2 linked regions of the Homo sapiens genome follow. The protein of the gene in region 2 purifies or fractionates together with the protein of the main gene of each other region. This does not show direct contact. Each region holds a gene or a part of one and is shown on either strand. Other genes may lie near its edges.

Region 1 (4,460 bases), on a different chromosome or scaffold from region 2:
TGACACCCACCAGATGCAATGTATGCCGCTGATGGGGAGGTCTTTCATGGGTGACATTCCATAAAAGACATGAATCCATACTGTATATAGGATACTACTGTATGTATGTTAAATTTTCTGATTTTGATGATTGGAATGTGATTCTAGAAGGGAAAATGTGTCCTCAGAAAGTACGCATTCAAGTATTTTGATATAAAAGGGTATGATCTCTGCAACTTACTCTCAAACAGTGCAGGAAAGTAATAATAATATGTATGGACATACAGAGAGTGACAAAGCAAATGTTAACAGTTGGTAAAACTGGAAGAAGAGTATACAGTAGTTTTTTGTTCTCTTCCAGCTTTCAGTAGATTTGAAATTATTTCAAAAAAAGTTGAAAAATGCAAAAGACTTCATTTGAAAAGTTTGGCTCAGAGAAGTGAGACCGGAGTTGTGAAATATTCTCTGAAAACTATGCAGCCTAGTCATCCCTTTAAATAGATGAAGCTTTATTTTTGGACTCAGCAGATCCCTTTGTCCATATTATCCTGGCCTCCAGCACATCACTGCTTACTCAGGTAGTCTCGGGGTTTACCTGAGGAGGATTCAAGGATACTGGGATGAAATTTATTTGTAAAAAATACTGTTTATCACACTGTCCAATAAATCATTAGTGCCCACTATGTATAGCTCAATGCTTTTACAATTTAGTACTACAAAAAAAGGCTTTTTTCACCCAAGAAACAGGTATTTCTCTTGATTTCTGATGACAGGAATTACATAACCATGACTCTTATGATGTTGTCAGACAGGAAGACTAAGGTCGAATGTGCGGACCAACTTCAGCAGCCACTGGGCTAAAGCTCAGGGTGACTTCCTAGGTCCGTTCTTTTCCTTTGGCTTGGTTATTTTTATCTGAATTTTACCACTTTTTGTCCTATTTTGAGGCAAAACTAAATCCAAAAATCATTTTGGCTCTCTGGGAAATGTAAGAACTACTGATGTGCTCAAGTTGGTAAATTCGGGCTCTTTCAGGCTCCTTCTGGCCATACACTCGATATGGGGAATTCATATGGAGATTCCCTGCCACCGTTTCTAAGTCTTGACACCAACTTCTGAAGCATGACTTTGGGCCACAAAACAATGATCTATAGAAGTTGAATCTCCAAGTTAGCCAAGTTACATTAATCACTTACCTCAAAAGGTCAAAACTGAGCACGACATTTTAGGTATTTATAGCAAGAAAGATGAGTAAGGTCCACGACTTACTAATCTTAAAGGTATGACAACTCTGTGAGCATTATTTTATTGCTACTACCAAGAATTCCTTTATATTTTAATAGTTCTGCAAGACTAAAACTACAAAGCAAAAATCTCACATGCAAATGTGGAAATGAAAAATACTTTCACCCACTGGTTTCACTCTTGACACAACCAGACCTGAGGGGACCTGAGGTGAACCCATTGGGGGAGGGCATGAGTTAAGGGTGTCAATAATTGAGGGAGGGGAGCTGTAGTATCGACAACGCTGATTTTGGCTTGTGTTTTAGGTAGAAAAGCAAGTTCTAAAATAAAGAGCTACAAAGCTTGATATGACGTGTATTTCAAAAAGAATTCACACAAGCAAAGAGGATTTTTCCAGTCCACAACCACTTCTGGTCGCTTCAGCAGCAAAAGGAAGGAACTAACAGTAGGAGATGGACTGTAGCAAACTAAAGAAGGCACCCCCACAAGGTTGTCAAGGAAACCAAACCAAGTGCATTTTTCTATAGAAAAGAATCAAGGGTAAGGTGAACATGCCATGTTACATTTTGTGGCAAAAATGATTAAAATCCCTTCTTGAAAAAAATCGCTAAGAGACCAAATTTACTTCCAGGCTATTTTACTAAGCACTACACCCATAACGCAGGCAGGCAAGCTTGTATTCCCAAACTACCAGCTACATGGATTCAGCAATCACCTTACTACAACCAGCTAACTTGGGTCACCGATACTTCAGGGCATTTCCTAAGATCTCTTTTTAATAGCTTAACGGCAACGAAAGAAGTGGTCACACTCAAAAAGTTAAAAACAAAAACCTCTACCACAATTCCACAAACATGCTCTCCCAAATTTAGGGTATTTTTCAAAATGGAGTCTTTTTAAACACATCATTTTTCAGCGAAAAGGCAAATCTATGCAAACCAAAGGGACAGCTTGGCCTGAGTGTGCCATTTCATACTGGAAAAGCGCAGGGAGGGCAGTAAAAATGGTATCAAGTTGGGAGATCGATGCTATTCTCTCCACAAGTAGGTGGTAAAGAATCCTCAGCCAGGAGGAATGACACGCACACGCGGGGACAGAACGAGGGCCAGTGCTGAGAACGCTGGAAGGCAGGGACACCGTTCACTAGGAGATGAGTGACGTTAAAGGATCTGCAGTGATGATCTGTGCCTCACGCTGGCGAATATTCCTAGGAGGGGAGATCCCGCGCTCCCGGTGTCCCTCAGGGTGTCCACCCCGGCGACGGCCGGAGCCGGGCTGCGGGTCCAGGGGCCCGGCCACGTGGGCGGGGGAGGCGAGGAGCGCCGGGCTCGCTCAGAGTGGGCACCGCGTCCCTACCCTCCGTGCTTTTCCTCTTGTGGCCCTTCCCGGCAGGGAAGAGGGGGTTTTACGACGTCAAGGCAAGGCTTGGAGGGAAGCGGCGGCCGGCGCCCCACCTGCCCAGGTGATCGCGGGGCTCAAGCCCGGGGCGACGGACGCAGCTCGACCTCCAGGCGAGGTGGACGCCAGGGGCCGGGAGCGGGGCCGCGGAGGAGCGGGGGTGGGCGCCGAGCTGCTCTTACCCGGTGCCACAGTCCACCACGCAGGGAGGCAGGGAGCCTGCCATGCTCGGGACGCGCGGCGCTCGGCCCCGCCGGCAGCCCGAGAGCGCCCCGTCGCCGTCCGCTCCGCCGCCCGCTAGCCCCGCGCGCAGCGTCTCCCGCGAGCCGCCGCAGCGCCGCTGCCGGGAGCCCGGATGCTCGGCGGCCGACACGTGACGTCACTCCCCGGTCGGCCAATCAGAACGCGCGCACGCCCCGCCTCCCCCAACACCCCCACCCCCACTCCGGCGCGCCATCTTTAGTGCTGGCAGCGAGGCTTCTTGGCCCCATACGTCCAACCTTGCTGCTGGAGAGATTGGGGTTTATTTTTAACTGACTTACATGAACGTGACCCCATTTCCGAGGCCTGGCGCCTTTCTCCTCCTGTAAGTCTTCGCTCGAATGTCACCTTGCGAGGGAAGTTGTTCCTGATCACCCTGACTATGTCCCCTACCGGTACTGTATCCTCTGTCTCAACAATCTGTTGGTTTCATTCCTAACCCTTAAAGCAAAGTGTTTATATTTTTATATTTATGTATTTGTTGTCTGCCTCCCCTACTGGACTATCAAATCTTCTAGGATAGGGCTTGAGTCTGTCTTAATCACTATTGATGAGCAGCAGGTGCTTAGCACAGTATTTGGTGTACCTGTGGAAGTGCCCAAATGTTTGTTGAATGACTGAGTAACCTTCCCCATATAATAAAAAAAAAAAAAAAAATTAGTTGGAATTGGCCGGGCGCGGTGGCTCACGCCTGTAATCCCAGCACTTTGGGAGGCTGAGGGTGGATCACAAGGTCAGGAGTTCCAGACCAGCCTGGCCAACATGGTGAAACCCCTTCTCTACTGAAAATACAAAAATTAGCCGGGCGTGGTGGCGGGTGCCTGTAATCCCAGCTGCTCCGGAGGCTGAGGCAGGAGAATCGCTTGAACCTGGGAGGCGGAGGTTGCAGTGAGCCAAGATCGCGCCATTGCACTCCAGCCTGGACAACAGGGCGAGAGTCTGTCTCAAAAAAACAACAAAAAAAATTAGTTGGAATTATTATACCTAACACGGCCTAAATTTTTCTAAGAAGAAAAATCTGCAAAACAAATGCTTGGCCAGCCTTAAGGAATGAATGGCCTTAGACTGAGTAAACCACACCAAGATCACTCCTGGAAAATGTTTTCAAGTGTCGAAGATGGGATGATCGCCCAAAAGTTCTTACTGAAACCAAAGAAGGCAAACACCACCTACTATATTATAAAGGTACTGAGAGTCCCACTTGCCACTTGCTTCCTGCTTCTTGCCCGATCGTAAATTCTTGATACTAATTTTTTAGGAGCTTTCTGGAAACATGTATTTTTTTGTTTTGTTTTGTTTTTTGAGATGAGTCTCACTCTGTCGCCCAGGCTGGAGTGCAGTGGCGCAATCTCGGCTCACTGCAACTCCGCCTCCCAGGTTCAAGCAATTCTCCTGCCTCAGCCTCCCAAGTAGCTGGGATTACAGGCACCCACTACCATGCCCGGTTAATTTTTTGTATTTTTAGTAGAGACAGGGTTTCATCATGCTGGCCAGACTGGTCTTGAGCTCCTGACCTCGTGATCTGCCTGCCTCAGCCTCCCAAAGTACTGGGATTACAGGCATGAGCCACCACGCCC
Region 2 (3,817 bases):
AAAGAGGAAACCAAATCTACTTCCAGAATCTGATTTAGACTGTATATTCTAAAATCTTAAAATATACAAAAGTCTGACATACAGGGATGTTTTTTCATTCAACTCATCTTTAACACCATTGCTAATAATCTTTAATTCAAATCGAAGTCTTTCTAAACTTAATAGGATTTTTATTCTCCTTTCACTTAATAGAGCCTGTGAAACTTTGATTGGACAGCCAGTTCTTCCTGAATTTTTTCTTAAAATTGGAAAGCACCTTAAATAGAAAAATCCTGTCCAACTTAGTCATTTCACAGATAACAAAAACATTTTCCTGGATGGAATTAAGTTTAATTATAGTTATTTAATAAAAGAATTTGGACTCTATCTCAAGACTCCTAAGTTTTACTGTTCCCTTTCAGCCTCACTATACTGCCACTCTTCAGATAATTTGAAATTAAACTATTACTTGAATGAATGAATCAGTCATCCTATCAATATCACTCTTCATTTTCCCACTCTTAATATTTTATTTTCAATAGCAAGTTAAGAATTAAATACTAACTTTGCTTGCCTATTAGGATAAAAAAATTAAATACCAACTTGAAACATTTTTAGCACATTATACATATGCTTAATGGAACTTTTTAGCATTTTTTTTTAAAGTGGAGTCTCACTTTTATTTTTCATTTCACAGATTTCTTCCTTTAAGACCCTCAAGGCTGAGCTTAAAATTGGCAGAATTCCATATCAGTCTGAGCACACACCGCACTCTAATTACTGTAGCATGCATACCAATATTTCGCCATGCAAGCAGTGGCGGAGTCCAAACGTTTCGCTTCATGCAGCTGGAGACAGTTGTCCACAAATGCTCGGGTTACACATATATGTGTTTTTAATTCTGCTAATTTATGTTGCACTGTCTTGAATTTAAAGGAAATAAAAGAAAAAAGTGAGCATGGTAGAAATATAAACTTCAACCCACTTAACATATCAGAAATTATACAATAAAAGATCTTTAGGGCAAACAAAAGTGGAATTGTTGGTTTTTTCCTCCATAAAAATGGCATTTGTTACCAAATCAGCTTAAATTTAAAACTCACTATATTTCAGTGCTAAGGAAATTTGTACTAAAAGATGCAAAAATAGTTTAAAACATAAACAATGTCTTGTTTCAGATTGTAAAATTTAGACGAGGCAAAATTCTTGAAAAACAGCATGACTTTAATGTGTGAGCACCATCTTGTGGTACAGTTATTTAGGTACAGCCGTTGAAAACACCTGTTGCTTTTTCCTCCAGAGATTAAATCCTTGAAGATTTTTTTCTTTATTAATGAAATTAAGTATACAGATTTTGCTACTCTGCTTCTAACATCTGGAGGGACAAGGGGTTTCTATATATGTTCATAAACATCAAAATATAAGGTATTATTTAATATTGCACAGTATTTAATCTAGATCTGTAGAAAGCAATAGAATAAAATCAGAGTACTAAAGAGATCAAAATCCAGTACCCTCATCCTCTTTCATCCCTTCACATTATCCCTTCTGATATGGTTTGGCTCTGTCCCTACCCAAATCTTATCTTGAATTGTAGCTCCCATAATCCCCACATGTTGTGGGAGGGACGTGGTGGGAGATAATTGAATCATGGGGGTGGGTTTGTCCCATGATGTTCTTGTGATAGTGAGTAAGTCTCATGAGATCTGATGGTTTTATAAAGAGTGGTTCCCCTGCACACGCTGTTTTGCCTGCTACCATGTAAGATGTGCTGTTGTTCCTCCTTCACCTTCCGCCATGATTATGAGGCCTCCCCAGCCATGTGGAACTGTGAGTCCATTAAACCTCTTTTTTTTTTTTTAATAAATTACCCAGTCTCAGGTATTTCTTCATAGCAGTATGAAAATGGATGAATACACCTCCCGTACCTCTCAATAGCTTGTTTAGCAGTCTCTAGCTTGGACTGAATGGTCTGGGATTATCAATGTTAATATAGCTATGTACCTACCTCCTCCTACTGGCCATGGACAACCCATTAGCATTTTTGGAAATCATTCTATTTAGACCATTCTCAATTGTTGCTGACTGTCCTTGCTTCAATCAAGCTTTATTTCATTCCTGACTCTAGGCTCTCACACTCTGAACTTGGAGTGTATATCTGTTCTCTTTGGCACTGACTCTTGAGCCTCCCTCAGGAAATTGGCTTGAACTTGAAATACTGGGTTCCCACTTTGGGTAGCTCCAAAAGTATACTCCATTCTAGTTGATTTCTTAGGTCCAAGGCCCAGATATGGTCAGCTGGCCTATCTTCTTTGTGAAAATTCAGATAGAAACAGTTCTGATCATTCTGCTGTGAAATGAGTAAGAACTTCACTGTGGCTAATAGCATATACATGGAAAGTTACAGGCAAAGGTGGTGCAGTGAAACTCAAACTAGAAATTAAACACATCCCACCTAGGTACTACCAAGTCCAAAGCCACAGCTGTGTTCTCAAAGGAGGGTGGTGGGACACATTCTCAGAAGATACATGGTCTGCTTTTAATGCTGGCTACAGCAATTCTCAAGTTATAAAACTGATTCTTTCACTGTCATTGTTGGTTGGGACAGTTTTGATACTTACCATTTCTGGAAAAGAGTAGAATGGGAGTGTAAAAAGACCCAGGACCAAGCAAGACCAGGGTGTATCAGGTGGAGTAAAGCTCTGAGGGGCAGATTCCTTACAGGTATATCAACATAACTACTGTGCTGATGAAAACTCCAACTGACTGTCTTTCCCCTGGTTTTATTTCACCCTGTTCTAGAAACAGAGAATGTAACTGGCATCGAATGATTCCAAAACTAAGCAATGAGAAGGTTGGCACCCCACTCCTTCCATCTCTGTATTCTGGCCTCTAGTTCTGAACATGCTGGGTCACATCAAAACTTTCTTCCCCGCTTATTGTTTCCCTTAATTTTTTCTATCTCCATTTCTATTCATCATATATTTAATTAGGTCAAATATCTACCCTTTAATCAGCACAAAGTTTCCCACTCCCAACCCACACATTGAAGTTTACTCTTAGACAATATAAAGATGGAACAAAAAAAGAAAAAAATAGGCAAATAATCTATATATCGAAAACAGATGAGTATTCCATGAAAATCCCTGAAGATGGTTTCTAAGCCTACTCCTAGTTTAGTTCAATGACACTATGTATGACACTTTATTTGGAAAATAAGGGTGGATCCAACAAGTCTCAAGATATTTTTTTGCCTACATGATGCCACATTTGGGAATTTATGCACTGTCTTTACAATATGAAAGAGTAAAGATATCTAAGCCTGATTCTCTCATACAAGAGTCATTCCTTTGTAAATGCTGGAAACTTCTAGAAGCTGAAGTAAAACTTCAAACCAGAATGGAATGATTTAGAATTCTTGCATCAGTGCATTCAGTGAAGTCCAGAGGTCTGAGAGAATAATGTCTCCAAGAGTACATAATTTACTCTCTGAGGATAAAAAGATTAAATATTTACATATTCTTGCCATTGGGTTGAGCGTTACTAAACAGATTTGGTCTTTGCTTTTCACTGCAGACACTGCATTATGCTTTCTGAAATCATCCTCTAATCAAAGGCAACTAAAAATTAGACCACACATTACTAGTCAAGTGCTCTTAGTGAATGATCGACAAGGTCATAGCAGTATTTTTAAGTCATTTATATTTGTTAATAAATAATACTGCAGCTAGCATTAAAAATTATTCTGAAGTTACTAAGTGGGCTGGATGGAGTCTTTTTCAGAGTTCTGAATGACAGAATTCTTAGAATTATGGAAATGGAGAACACCTTGGAGAGG

The links.
Region 1: the proteins of ACADL (region 2) and ACTR3B purify together in Homo sapiens (affinity purification with mass spectrometry; one large-scale study listed by BioGRID and IntAct). This does not show direct contact.

What each region holds. Positions count from the first base shown.
Region 1 is NC_000007.14:152,758,271-152,762,730, reverse strand, and holds the start of ACTR3B (actin-related protein 3B), read right to left. Parts: upstream 2,980-4,460; 5' UTR 2,849-2,979; coding exon 2,805-2,848; exon of another isoform or gene 2,679-2,804; intron 1-2,678. UniProt on the Homo sapiens protein: Plays a role in the organization of the actin cytoskeleton.
Region 2 is NC_000002.12:210,194,437-210,198,253, forward strand, and holds part of ACADL (long-chain specific acyl-CoA dehydrogenase, mitochondrial precursor), read right to left. Parts: intron 903-3,817; coding exon 775-902; intron 1-774. UniProt on the Homo sapiens protein: Long-chain specific acyl-CoA dehydrogenase is one of the acyl-CoA dehydrogenases that catalyze the first step of mitochondrial fatty acid beta-oxidation, an aerobic process breaking down fatty acids into acetyl-CoA and allowing the production of energy from fats.